Linked DNA regions of Homo sapiens. The protein of the gene in region 1 interacts with the protein of each later gene in a biochemical or structural test. Each region holds a gene or a part of one and is shown on either strand. Other genes may lie near its edges.

Region 1 (3,207 bases):
AAGAAGATTAACAGGATGTGAAGGGATTGTATAAATGTGAAAGGCTAGTAAGGCTGAAACTTTTTCTCCTCCAAATATTTCTGACATTTGTTGTATGCTTAAGAAAGCAGCATATATTTCTTCTAATAAGCTTTACACAAGTAGTACTTATGGATATATCCTTTCAAACAGAAACCAAAGCCAAATAAAAGTAAAATTTTTCCTAATTTTTCTTATCAGAAAAGTTAACAATCCCCTATCTATATCTTAAATAAAATGATACAATTTCCAGCACCTACTAATGGCTCTAAGATGTTCATAAAGTTAATTCTGCTTAATATTGGGATGAAACCTCTCTCCCAGCGTAGCAGGATAAGTAAGGATCTATCCACCATGATTCAGAGAGCCCAAGGACAGTCTTCAAGTCTGTATTTCACCATACCACTCTCCTTATGTCCCTAGTACATTTTTTTAAAGAATTATGTTTTAGCTTCATAAGTGAACTACCCACCAACCAGAAATGCTTTTCCTCAACTTCTTTAATCTATAAAAATTTCATGCACACAACCTGATAAAATACATCAGAGTCAAGACATCCGATTTAAGTATTTTAGGCATATTTAATAAATAACTTCAGTAAATAGCACTGTAAAAAGTGAACTGTTAAAACTAAAGGCACTTAAAACAAGAATGTGACTAGTGTGAAACAAGATGGGCAACTCAAATGGTGAGAAGTAAACATACAGTGGTCTGTTATGGCACTAACTCAAAGTAAGACTCGCGTAGGTGAGAGCTGTTGCATAGCCACAGTATAACTTCACATGTTCATTAAAAAGGCAAATTGACCGCTAAAACTTCAAAGAAAAAGTACTCATAAAAAAAGTCTTACCCCAAAATTGCAAACAAATACATTAAAAGATTAGAAGAGGTGACAGAAAGCACCAGACATTAAACAAAATAAAAATAATAAAATAAATTCAACTCAAAAGGTCCCCATTCAGCAAATACTTTGTAAAGTATGGCCTGTATGTAAATAGTGCTAAATCAAGGACTTTTTAGCAGAAAATTGCTCGGTTCTTTTATCTAAGGCTTGAATTTGTAAAGTGAAGGCATAAAAGTTACCAAACATTAAGTAACTCTTAAAATGGCACACAGGTTTTAAAGCTATTGGTTTTTCCTTCCTAACTCTCTGAATTTTTCCCATGGCCTTTGTAGATCAACTATTTCAAACGTATTTTACACCAGCAACTCTCAACATACTTGTCTTTCAGATATGTCATCAGTCATGTCTAACAGGCAAATAGCAAAATAACAGATTTAAAACAATCCTTAACTAGCTAGCAGGACATTTACTTTGGATTCTGCATAACTGCAAACTGACATATTTGTAAAGCTAAAAATCAGTTTTAATACATGATTAACAGAAACTCTCATCATGCTCATTACTTTAACTATTGCCCTTTCAATCGCTATAGAAATATCACTTAATCCAATAAGCTTGATTTCAATAGTCCAGGAAGAAAAGGTCAAAAAGGCACAATGTGACCTTAGCTGACAAGAGTAACCATCCTGTCTCAAGTCTTTTGTCAGTCCCTGGCATGAATTACAACATTATTTTCAAAATAATAAAACATTTTAAAAATTATACATATTGTACATTTTCAAAACCTGCACATGAGTAAAACCATGGCAATATTGCCCTAAAGCTACCTAACTGTGACTATGGAAATTGCTACTTTGCATTCAGTGTTGTGGGATTTGCACGGGCAGTACTCATTTTCCCTCATACTTCGGATTGACCACAGTTGTTACGGCACTCTTATAAATAGGATTTTCACCCTACAACAAAAAAAAAGTGAGAAAAATTATCAGTTACCCTACTAAAATTATGTAGAATAATTTTTATAAATCAAGACTAAAAGTTGCAATCATCTTAAGAAGTCATTTCTATTTTATTTGTCCAGATATCACAGTTGTTTTAAAGGCATTAATAATGGTTTATATAAAAATAGAAAATGGAAGCTTTGCTTTACAAGTCTAATGATGCCCCGTTATCTGGTGCTATTTCATTCTTGAGTCCTTCCTCCACTGGAGGCTTGATTTAAGAATGTTCTCCATGGCACAGAATGTGCTGTCATCGTGGATTCTCTCCTCTGAACTAGTTTGCAATGCCTGCCTTAATGAAGCATGAACTCCGCTGCCATCACTGCCTGATTCTTATCCCTTTATCGTGAACAGAAGGCGCCTGCTAATCAAAACGGGAATCCTCGGCTTTCACTGCTGGGAGGGAGGTGTGCTTCTGGGGTCTCCTACGGAAGTTACTAATTTAGAGAGTAAGGCTGTCATTGTGTCAGGGACAGCACTGCGCCCCACCAAGTCACACTGCCAAATTTGCTTAGAATGTTAGATAATTACCATTCCTTATGAAATAACTTGTTATGCTTCAATATCATATTGGTGAAATGTCTTATTGCAGTGCTATAATTTAGTAAACAGTACTGAAGTCAAGCCTAGCAAGCAGGCCCCAAGCCATAAACACAAGAGATCTTTCAAGATCCAAAAATATACTGACAGTGATGTTTTAAGCAGAAAAAAACATATCACTGTATCACCCTTTTCCTTAAAAATTCTCTTATACTATAACTGCTACATTTAAATACTTGCTATAGCATTCTTTTTTCTCCTGTTCTTATAAATTGAAAGCAGGCTTGAAAGCCAAGTGAGAAGTGTGACCAAATAACACTTAATCAGAGAAAATTACAGTGAGTACAAATAAAAAATACTTGTTAACTACCAGGGAAATTTTTTTTAAGAAAAAATTAAGATTTTGGAATGTTGTTCAGTTTTATATCTCACTATAGAACCAACTGCAGGTGATTTTTAAAAAAATATTTATAGAAAGCATCTAAAACATTTTTTGATCTAAAAGTAATTTTTGTTTTTAAATTTTATTCACACTTCATTGCAGACTGTATTTGGATCTGCCTTTTGGTGGCACAATTTCTGCCCTCAAGGAAGGTATAGTTTGGTGGGTGAGAGACATGAAAATAAGGCACTCTGATGAAGTTTACAATAGAGTTATGAACATAATCTGGGAATAGTATAAGAAAAAAGTTATTAACTTTAAGAAGATTAAGGAGATTTTCATTGTGAAATTGACTAGAAAAATTATTGGTTGGTAAATAGCAATCTATGCAAAGTCAAGGTGTAGGGAAAAGAATGGGACAT
Region 2 (3,500 bases), on another chromosome or scaffold:
TTTGAGGATTAAATATAAAATGTATGTTGTAATCCCTTTTGAAAATTCTACACAACCATAACTTTATGTACAAGAGTTTACTCCTAGTTCTGTAACTGTTCTCTCATTACTATCCTTCCTTTTTCCATTTCATTACAGAAGCCCTCTCCAAAATAAATCTTCAGGCTTTCTTCATGTTTCTCTCCATTACCTTCCTCTTAGGTCCCGATGAATGCAATATTCTATTTAAAATACCAAAAAATGTAATATTTCAGTAAAAAAAAGATCAAATTAAGCAATCCAGAATCTAAGGACTATCACATAGGAAAATCAACTCTAACTCTATGTTTTAATTTTAGAAAAGTTACTGTGAAATGATCTTATCATCTTAACAAAACACCATTTTACAAATAAATTTCAAGTATACTTTCTCCTTTCCTCCATGCCTGCCCTCTTAGGATATTTCTTTTTCTGTCATTCCTTTACAGCTGCTGCACAATATGTCTGATCATGAACAACATGTGTTTCAGAGATGCTCATCCTCTTTCTGGCGTAGTAATGGTGATTCATCTCCCTGTCTCAATATTTCTTCCATCTCTGTCACTCCTATCAACTCGCCTGATTCCAGACTATCACTGGGACTGTTAATACCACCACCTTCTAAATGTGGCTTTCCCAAGCCAGTCAGTGAGAGCAGCATCCCAAGACCTCATGTAATTTGCTAAGCAGATAATTCTTTTTTATTATCCCACTTATTTTGCTTAAATTCTGCCAAAATGTGCTATTTGTAAAGTTATCAAAAATTTAGATGTATCTTGAGTCAATGTGATGTGATCTGGAGCCTTTGTGTGCCATTGTTGTTTTCTTTGATTACCTGATACCAGAAAGTTTCAAGTAGAGGGTGGTGACAGTGTAGAAATTTACATACAGATACTTCAAAGGATCTATCAGATGTTGCAGTTGGGAAATTAGATCATTGGTAAGAGCAATTTCAGCAGAGTTCAGTGCAAAAAGAACAAATCTAGATTGATAAGAGTTAAAGATAGAATGAAGTAAATCTTAGGACAGAAAGTGTAGTATCTCTTTCAAGGAGCTTAGCCTTGAAGGAAAAAGAAAAACAGAATAGAGGCTGGAAGATTAAAGAGGGACAGAGTAAATAAATTTTTGATTGATTTGTTTTGCTTTTAATGACAGCCAAGATTTTAGAATTTTTGTATCGTGAAAAAGAGTAGAGATATAGAAGTGAGAGGGGATACAGGAATGGGATAATTAGGGGAATGGTATTGCTGAGTAACAGTAAAGGGGTGAGGGGATACAATAAACAAATTGTTAAAGAAAGGGGGATGACAGCAATTTTCCTGCATGAAAAATAATGTACTAGCAATTATTTTAGCTGAATAGCAAACCCATCATTCTCTACACACAATAAGCCTGATTTTTTCATCACCTGCACTACCTGTGAATCAGAAAATTAAACGTATTCTGAGAATTCTAATTTTAATATGAACTACTGGAAGCAATCTCTGTCCAAGTTCTCACAGGAAAAGCAAATTTTTCGCCACTATTCCCCCAAAATGGAAATTCTCTTTTATCCCTGATCAAATCAGATGGTTTTCAAAGGAGATTATACATATATACATATTGTTCCCTGTTTTACAAAGTGATAAATGTCTAATTTTGATATTACTTCTTGGCTACATTTTCATGAGATTTTCATTTATCTTTCCCTATATGTGTTCAGTCCTGGCCCAGACTGTATCAGAAAACTCAATGATTTGGGCAGTACACTGGCGATTATTAATTTAGTTTATAAGATTGCTATTTATTACAGAAAACTTGATGAAATCTTTCAGGAGTAAAATGTACTGCAATGAATATCAGTTGGTTCCCATTGTTGATATAAATACAAACTAAAATATACTCTACTTTTGAGAATGCAAAAAAAATCAATTGCATTTGAATGTTTATATTTAAGAAGGCAGGTCACTTATGTCTAATTATTCCAGTTTAAAATGTAATCTTATGCAGCGTATCTTACTGAAATCATATTTTTACATGAATAGTTTCTAATATATCTAATTCTCTGTTACAAGTAGCAGTCATTTCTATATATCCCAAAAATTCACTGTATCTTTTATATTCATCTGGAATAATATTGTCACCGTTTTTGCCATCATCTTTGAGAGCATTTTTACAGAAATTTTCTATTGCTTTCTTCTAAATGAGCATTTATCATAATTAGTGGAACCATATGAAATTGCGAATACTTAACTATTTTTGGTCTACAAAATGGCAAATTCTTATGATGCAACTGAAATTGTTGTTTACATATATTTTATATGCATATGAAATATTTAGCATTACAATGTGTCTATATGAAATATTACCCTAATTCATTTATTTTCATTGCAGGCAGGCAGTATGACACCTAAGTCGCCCTCCACTGACATCTTTGATATGATTCCATTTTCTCCAATATCACACCAGTCTTCGATGCCTACTCGCAATGGCACACAGCCACCTCCAGTACCTAGTAGATCTACTGAGATTAGTAAGCTTTCTCAACAAATCAAAGTTTCTTGTTATAGTTGCATACATTTTAAATATATAATTAAGACTTTGTGGGAAATTACATATCTTAACAACCTTACTTACAATTTTAATTATTAAAGTATTATTTTTATATTTGTATAAATTTCCATTAATTCTATTTTACTTTATAATTCAGACTACACTACTAATGACATCTCTGCTTGCAACTTTTACCTATTGTGTGAACAATTATGTTTTGGTGTATTACTTCATATTTAATTATATATCACTGTTTTGGGTTATATTTTTAATATTTTACTTTAACTTTTAAAAATAACTGGTGGTAATTAAATTGATCATTTTTTACATGTTTAATAGAGCTGGTTAAAATATTTTTGTTATCATAGGGTTTATGGACTTTTTTGTTAAAAAATATATAAATTATATCATGATTTCTTAACCTTTTGTAAGGGTTCTTTCCTATCTAAAATGCTATAAATTCATTGCTTTTCTGTTTTATCTTTTATATATCTGGAAGGAATATTAAAGTCTCTTTTTGATGAATTAGAAAACACCTATAAGCCTGTAAAATAAAAAGCAAGTTAGTTACTTGTAAAATACAATGAGCATACAGGCATTGGGTGAACGTTTCCATTCCAAATTGGAGAAATTGGCAAAGCGAAGGAGCCACAGGCCCCTTGCAAGTTTGAAACCCGGTGGGGCAGTCATTAAATCTTAAAGCTCCAAAATTATCTCATTTTACTCCATGTGTCACATCCAGGGCATGCTAATGCAAGGGATGGACCCCAAGGCCTTGGGCAGCTCCACCTCTGTGGCTCTGCAGGGTACAGCCCCCATAGCTGTTTTCACAGGCTGGCATTGAGTGACAGGCACACAGTGCAAGCTGTTGGTGGATCTACCATTCGGGGGTCTGAAAGACAGTGGCCCTCTTCTCACAGCTCCACTAGGCAGTGCCCCAGTGGGGACTC
Region 3 (3,500 bases), on another chromosome or scaffold:
GCAGATCAGCTGACACAATCTCCTCCTAATGAAAACATCTGGTTCTACAAAATTCATTTTGCCCCAGTGGATGTCTTTACCTCCAATTAAGAACGAGAGATGCTACACTTAAAAGATAACACTTAGAGAATCCCTCACAAAAGTTTAAGTACTTGCTCCAAAATGCAAATTTTTTTATTTTATTTTTTCTTTTTGGAGGAGTCTGGCTCTGTCACCCAGGCTAGAGTGCAGTGGTGCTATCTCGGCTCACTTCAACCTCCACCTCCTGGGGAAGTTCAAGCAATTCTTCTGCCTCAGCCTCCTGGGTAGCTGGGACTAGAGGCACGCGCCACCACGCCCGGCTAATTTTTCTATTTTTAGTAGAGATGGGGTTTCACCATGTTGACAGGCTGGTCTTGAACTCCTGACTTTGTTATCCACCCGCCTCGGCCTCCCAAAATGCTGGGATTACAGGTGTGAGCCACCGTGCCCGGCCCCTAATGATTTTTAAAAGCCAGACAATCTATATGGCACTTTACCACTGAGCAATCGAAAGCAATTTTAGCACTTTAACCACCCCACCCCCGCCTTTTTTTTTTTTTTTTTTTTTGAGACAGAGTCTCATTCTGTTGCCCAGGCTGGAGTGCAGTGCCATGATCTCAGTTCTCTGCAACCTCCACCTCCTAGGTTCAAGCGATTCTCCCACCTCAGCCTCCCAAGTGGCTGGGATTACAGGCGTACACCACCACGCCTGGCTACTTTTTATATTTTTAGTAGAGATGGGGTTTTGCCATGTTGGCTAGGCTGGTCTCCAACTCCTGACCTCAGGTGATCCGCCCGTCTCAGCCTCCCAAAGTGCTGGGAATCCCAAAGCTCCTCCTAATACTGTGGGCAAACCGTGTACCCACTTAAAGGGACATACCAAAGCCTGCAGAGAACGAGTGAATTCAACATGTTAAACCTAGCAAAGAGTAATGCCCAAGTATCCACCCCAACCTCTCCTCCTCTCTACCACCACTGCCACTATCCCGCCTCGGCCTTCACCTCCTGTCACTGGACCACTGCCCAAGGCCAACCATTTTACCAGCTCCTTCCCAACACACATCTGGATCAAGTCCCCTACTCTAAGGGATCCCCAATTCCAACAAAATCTTTCAGTGACTCCTCAATGCTTAAAGAAGATGTCTCTCCTCAAGTCCAAATAATACCTCCTTGAAATTCCCACTACTCCCTAACCTTTCTACCATTCCCAAAGGTCACTCTTAGCCCTACTGCCACACACAAACACCTCACCTCTCCCCTCCCTTTCTTCAATAAATGAGGGGTCTAACATGAGCACAGTGTCAAATGGGCATCGAATGAGCAAACTCTTAGCGTTAGCTCCCCTTACCATCAAGGTCTTTGGGCCTAGGGTACCCTTGTCCTCAATCTCCAAGGTCCACATTGTACCCTTCCTCCAATGACAAGATCAGAATGGGTCAGTCTTCCACAAAATCTATGGTCCCTCCTTTGAGTGAACCTTGATTTCAGACATTTTACCTGCTGGATTCTAAACTCCCTGACTTCCACGTTACTGTTACCGGATTTCCCCTCTGTCAGTCCTTCCAAGACTCAGAATTGTCCTCAGGCTGGCAATCTTCTTTTCTTTTCTTTTTTTTGAGACAGAGTTTCACTCTTGTTGCCCAGGCTGGAGTGCAATGGCACAATCTCGGCTCACTGCAACTTTCACTTCCCAGGTTCAAGTGACTCTCCTGTCTCAGCCTCCTGAGTAGCCGGGATTACAGGCACCCCCCACTACACCCGGCTAATTTTTCGGTATTTTTAGTAGAAACGGGGTTTCACCATGTTGGCCAGGCTGGTCTCGAACTCCTGACCTCAAGTGATCCGCCCACCTGCGCCTCTCAAAGTGCTGGGATTTACAAGCGTAAGCCACCGCGTCCGGTTGACAATCTTTTATTCAAGACATTTGGAACACCAGCCATCACATGCTCACAAAATGCAAAATAACAGTAGTTACCCCAAGAACACAAAAATGGTCAAATAAATATTTAAAATAACAATAAGGCCGGGTGCAGTGGCTCATGCCTGTATACAATCCCAGCATTTTGGGAGGCCAAGGCGTGCAGATCACTTGAGGCCAGGAGTTCAAGACCAGCCTAGCCAACATGGTGAAAACCCATCTCTATATACAAAAATTAGCTGGACGTGATGGCACGCACTTGTAATCCCAACTACTCAGGAGGCTGAGGCAGGAGAATCACTTGAACCCGGGAGACGGAGGTTACAGTGAGTAGAGATGGTGCCACTGCACTCCAGCCTGGGCAACAGAGCAAACCTCCGTCTCAAAACAAAATAACAATAAAATCCAAAATAACATGGAAACAAACTTGATTTATTTCTGGTTTTAATTTTTCACACTATCATTCTCCTCACTGATCATACCAGACACTTCTCTTATAAATATATGGTACTCTGAATGTAACCTTGTGAAGAGAAATTTACAATTTTAAGTTTATGAGTATCCGTCTCTCAAAAACCTAAGGGTGAAAATAAATTTCTCTAAACAGAATACACCCCGTTTTTCACCTCCTTCTTTTAAGATGAAGTTACATACTGTTCAACTATACCAGACCATTTACCACTGTTGTCAGAGACACAGAAAATTAGAAGTTATCCCCAAAAAACTGGATCAAGTCCCCTACTCTCAGGGATCCCCAATTCCAACAAAACCTTTCAGTGGCTCCTCAATGCTTAAAGAAGATGTCTCTCCTCAAGTCCAAATAACATCTCCTTGAAATTCCCACTACTCCCTAACCTTTCTACCATTCCCAAAGGTCACTCTTAGCCCTACTGCCACACACACCCCTCCCCCTCCCTTTCTTCCATAAATGAGGGGTCTACCATTAGCACAGTTTTGCAGGAGAGTCGTTCGCCCCAAAAGAAGCTATTTCATACGACATATCAAATCTCAGAAAACTCCCTCTTTTCAACTCACTCACTTCATGTAAATATAGTTGCCTCAAAATAAGCAACATCTGCGCTAATGAAAAATAGAAAATATGACACTAAAATAAATTAGGACAAGTTGTTCAGCTTACAGATTTTTTTTACCTGAAATTATGTTTAAAAATAAAGACCTTTTTATAAATAACAATTCAGCAACAAGTATTTCTCAAACTTTAATGCTATTCATCCTAAAGGATGTTTAGCAGCAATAAACAAACTCTAAAGTGTTAATAATGTAATCCCAAATCTACCACAAGCAAATCATACCAACAAAAATCCTAAATTAACTCCTACACATAATTGTAAATGGTTCTAGAAATTAAATAGTTAAAAAGAGGAAAAAAAGAGATGTTCTGCTATTTTCACCACTTCTAAGATTGAAGTTCCCAGTACCCGCTTGTAAACATTAAAGAACTTGTTATAGTAAAAAAAAAAAAAAACACATTTTACTGATGTATGAGACAATCAAGAAAACGTTAATAGTGAATATATGACATTTTTCTAAGTGTGATAAC
Region 4 (3,500 bases), on another chromosome or scaffold:
GCGGCACTGCGATCCAGCCTGGGCAACAGAGTGAGACTCCATCTCTAAAAAAAAAAAAAAAAAAAAAGAAAGCTTTTTTTTCCACTGAGAAGTCCTTTCCATTACAAGAGGTTACAACACGGGGTTTTACCCAGTTCAGCTGGCCCAGAGAGGCTTTGCAGATTTCCACTGCCTACTCCCTCCCACACTCAGTCCCTGCTGGGTTCTTGGGACAAAGATCTTCCCAAGGCCAGCCCATAATATTCCTCCCTCTGACCCACCCTCCTCGAGTCCTCCAGGGATGAGTGAGGGAGCTGCTGTCTTCCTGGGTTTGGAGGGGGTTTGGTGCTTGGCAGCCAGATGAGGGAGTGGGGTCGTCTGTGAAGAGGGACTTCCTGGTGACCTTGTACCTTTCTGGGCAGATGGAGGCTGGACAGTAATTCAGAGGCGCCACGATGGCTCAGTGGACTTCAACCGGCCCTGGGAAGCCTACAAGGCGGGGTTTGGGGATCCCCACGGTAGGTGTTTCTAGTGGGGACAGAGGCAGGGGAGGAAGAGGGACCCTCAGAAGTGGCCCTGCCTCATGGAGTGGCCTCTCCCACTCCAGGCGAGTTCTGGCTGGGTCTGGAGAAGGTGCATAGCATCACGGGGGACCGCAACAGCCGCCTGGCCGTGCAGCTGCGGGACTGGGATGGCAACGCCGAGTTGCTGCAGTTCTCCGTGCACCTGGGTGGCGAGGACACGGCCTATAGCCTGCAGCTCACTGCACCCGTGGCCGGCCAGCTGGGCGCCACCACCGTCCCACCCAGCGGCCTCTCCGTACCCTTCTCCACTTGGGACCAGGATCACGACCTCCGCAGGGACAAGAACTGCGCCAAGAGCCTCTCTGGTGAGCAGGCCCTGCCATGCCACACCCAGCCAGCAGCTTCCCTCCTTATCTTTCTGCTGCTCTGTCCTGCCTTCAACCCCACATTGCATCTGTTTCCTGCCCCCACCTCTTCCTTACATGCCGTGTGTGTGATTGGGCCACTAACTTAGCCTATCTGGCCTCAGTTTTCCCATCCTGAAAAGGGTCTTGACCGTCTTTACTTTTATTTACTTATGTGTTTGTTTATTTATTTATTTATGTATTTATTTTTTGAGACGGAGTCTCACTTTGTCACCCAGGCTGGAGTGCTTTGTGGCACGATCTTGGCTCACTGCAAGCTCCACCTCCTGAGTTCACACCATTCTCCTGCCTCAGCCTCCCGAGTAGCTGGGACTATAGGTGCCCACCACCACGCCTGGCTAATTTTTTTGTATTTTTAGTAGAGATGGGGTTTCACCGTGTTAGCCAGGATGGTCTCGATCTCCTGACCTCGTGATCTGCCTGCCTCAGCCTCCCAAAGTGCTGGGATTACAGGCGTGAGCCACCGCGCCCGGCCTACTTATTTATTTTTTGAGACAGAGTCCCGCTGTGTCTCCCAGGCTGGAGTGCAAGTGACGTGATCTTGGCTCACTGCAGCCTCCGCCTCCTGGGTTCAAGTGATTCTCCTGCCTCAGCCTCCTGAGTAGCTGGGATTACAGGTTCCCGCCACCATGCACAGATAATTGTTTTGTATTTTTAGTAGAGACGGGGTTTCACCATGTTGGCCAGGGTGGTCTTGAACTCCTGACCTCAAGTGATCTGCCCACCTCGGCCTCCCAAAGTGTTGGGATTACAGGCGTGAGCCACAATACCCGGCCACAAACATCTTTATAATGGTGCTCCACAGGATTCTTTTTTTTTTTTTTTTTTTGAAACAGGGTCTCACTCTGTTGCCTAAGCTGGAGTGCAGTGGTGCGATCTCGGCTCACTGCAACCTCCACCTCCCGGGTTCAAGCAATTCTCAAAAAAAAAAAAAAATTAGGCACGGTGGCTCACACTTGCAATCCCAGCACTTTGGGAGGCTGAAGCGAGTGGATCACTTGAGCCCAGGAGACCAATCTGAGCAACAGGGCGAAATCCTGTCTCAATTAAAAATACAAAAAACTAGCTGGGCATGGTGGTGCCTGCCTGTGTTCCCATCTACTTGGGAGGCTGAGTTGGGAGGATCTCTTGAGCCTAGGAGATAAGGCTGCAGTGAGCTGAGACTGCGCCACTGCACTCAAGCCTGGGTGACAGAGTGAGACCCCTGCCTCAAAAGAAAAAGAAAAAATGCAGGCATGGTGGCTCACACCTGTGGTCCCAGCTACTTGGGAGGCCCAGGTACAAGAATCACTTGAGCCCGTAAGGTTGACGCTGCATTGAGCCATCACCACACCACTGCACTCCAGCCTGGGCAATGGAGCCAGGCCCTGTCTCAAAAAAAATTGTTTTTAAACTTAAAAATAAGGCCGGGTGTGGGGGCTCACACCTGTAATCCCAGCACTTTGGGAGGCCGAGGTGGGTGGATCACCTGAGGTCAGGAGTTCAAAACTAGCCTGGCCAACATGGTGAAACCCTGTCTCTACTAAAAATACAAAAATTAGGCCAGGCGCAGTGGGTCATACCTGTAATCCCAGCACTTTGGGAGGCTGAGGAGGGTGGATCACATGAGGTAAGGAGTTTGAGACCAACCTGGCCAACATGGTGAAACCCCCTCACTACTAAAAATACAAAAACTAGCCAGGCGTGGTGGCGGGTGCCTGTAATCCCGGCTACTCAGGAGGCTGAGGCATGAGAATCCCTTGAACCTGGGAGGCAGAGGTGCAGTGAGCCGAGATTGTGCCACTGCACTCCAGCCTGGGAGATAGAGTGAGACTCAGTCTCAAAAAAAAAGACCAAAAATTAGCCAGGTGTGGTGGCAGGCGCCTGTAATCCCAGCTACTCGGGAGGCTGAGGGAGGAGAATCACTTAAACCTGAGAGACGGAGGTTGCAGTGAGCTGAGATCGCACCACTGCACTCCAGCCTGGGTGACAGAGTAAGACTCAATCTCAAAAAAAAAAAAGTCAAGTCCAAAGCCCAGCCTGGTCCCCAACCTGCCTCATCCTCAACCCTATCCCTATCTCCTTTCAGCCCCATCGGTGGCTCAAAGACCTGACCATGTTCCCTCTCCCCTGACCCCGGCAGGAGGCTGGTGGTTTGGCACCTGCAGCCATTCCAACCTCAACGGCCAGTACTTCCGCTCCATCCCACAGCAGCGGCAGAAGCTTAAGAAGGGAATCTTCTGGAAGACCTGGCGGGGCCGCTACTACCCGCTGCAGGCCACCACCATGTTGATCCAGCCCATGGCAGCAGAGGCAGCCTCCTAGCGTCCTGGCTGGGCCTGGTCCCAGGCCCACGAAAGACGGTGACTCTTGGCTCTGCCCGAGGATGTGGCCGTTCCCTGCCTGGGCAGGGGCTCCAAGGAGGGGCCATCTGGAAACTTGTGGACAGAGAAGAAGACCACGACTGGAGAAGCCCCCTTTCTGAGTGCAGGGGGGCTGCATGCGTTGCCTCCTGAGATCGAGGCTGCAGGATATGCTCAGACTCTAGAGGCGTGGACCAAGGGGCATGGAGCTTCACTCCTTGCTGGCCAGG

The links. Proteins that work in one complex are often made in the same cells at the same time.
Region 2: the proteins of ITGB1 (region 1) and GULP1 form a complex in vitro, tested with the Homo sapiens proteins (one study listed by IntAct).
Region 3: the proteins of ITGB1 (region 1) and MAP4K4 form a complex in vitro, tested with the Homo sapiens proteins (one study listed by BioGRID).
Region 4: the proteins of ITGB1 (region 1) and ANGPTL4 interact in a biophysical measurement, tested with the Homo sapiens proteins (one study listed by IntAct).

Annotation. Positions count from the first base shown.
Region 1 is NC_000010.11:32,899,818-32,903,024, forward strand, and holds the end of ITGB1 (integrin beta-1 isoform 1A precursor), read right to left. Parts: intron 1,819-3,207; coding exon 1,753-1,818; 3' UTR 501-1,752; downstream 1-500.
Region 2 is NC_000002.12:188,581,874-188,585,373, forward strand, and holds part of GULP1 (PTB domain-containing engulfment adapter protein 1), read left to right. Parts: intron 1-467; coding exon of another isoform or gene 468-692; intron 693-2,391; coding exon 2,392-2,530; intron 2,531-3,500. UniProt on the Homo sapiens protein: May function as an adapter protein. Required for efficient phagocytosis of apoptotic cells. Modulates cellular glycosphingolipid and cholesterol transport. May play a role in the internalization and endosomal trafficking of various LRP1 ligands, such as PSAP.
Region 3 is NC_000002.12:101,700,707-101,704,206, reverse strand, and holds part of MAP4K4 (mitogen-activated protein kinase kinase kinase kinase 4), read right to left. Parts: intron 1-3,500.
Region 4 is NC_000019.10:8,370,655-8,374,154, forward strand, and holds part of ANGPTL4 (angiopoietin-related protein 4 isoform a precursor), read left to right. Parts: intron 1-401; coding exon 402-497; intron 498-586; coding exon 587-868; intron 869-2,996; coding exon of another isoform or gene 2,997-3,050; coding exon 3,051-3,232; 3' UTR 3,233-3,500. UniProt on the Homo sapiens protein: Mediates inactivation of the lipoprotein lipase LPL, and thereby plays a role in the regulation of triglyceride clearance from the blood serum and in lipid metabolism. May also play a role in regulating glucose homeostasis and insulin sensitivity.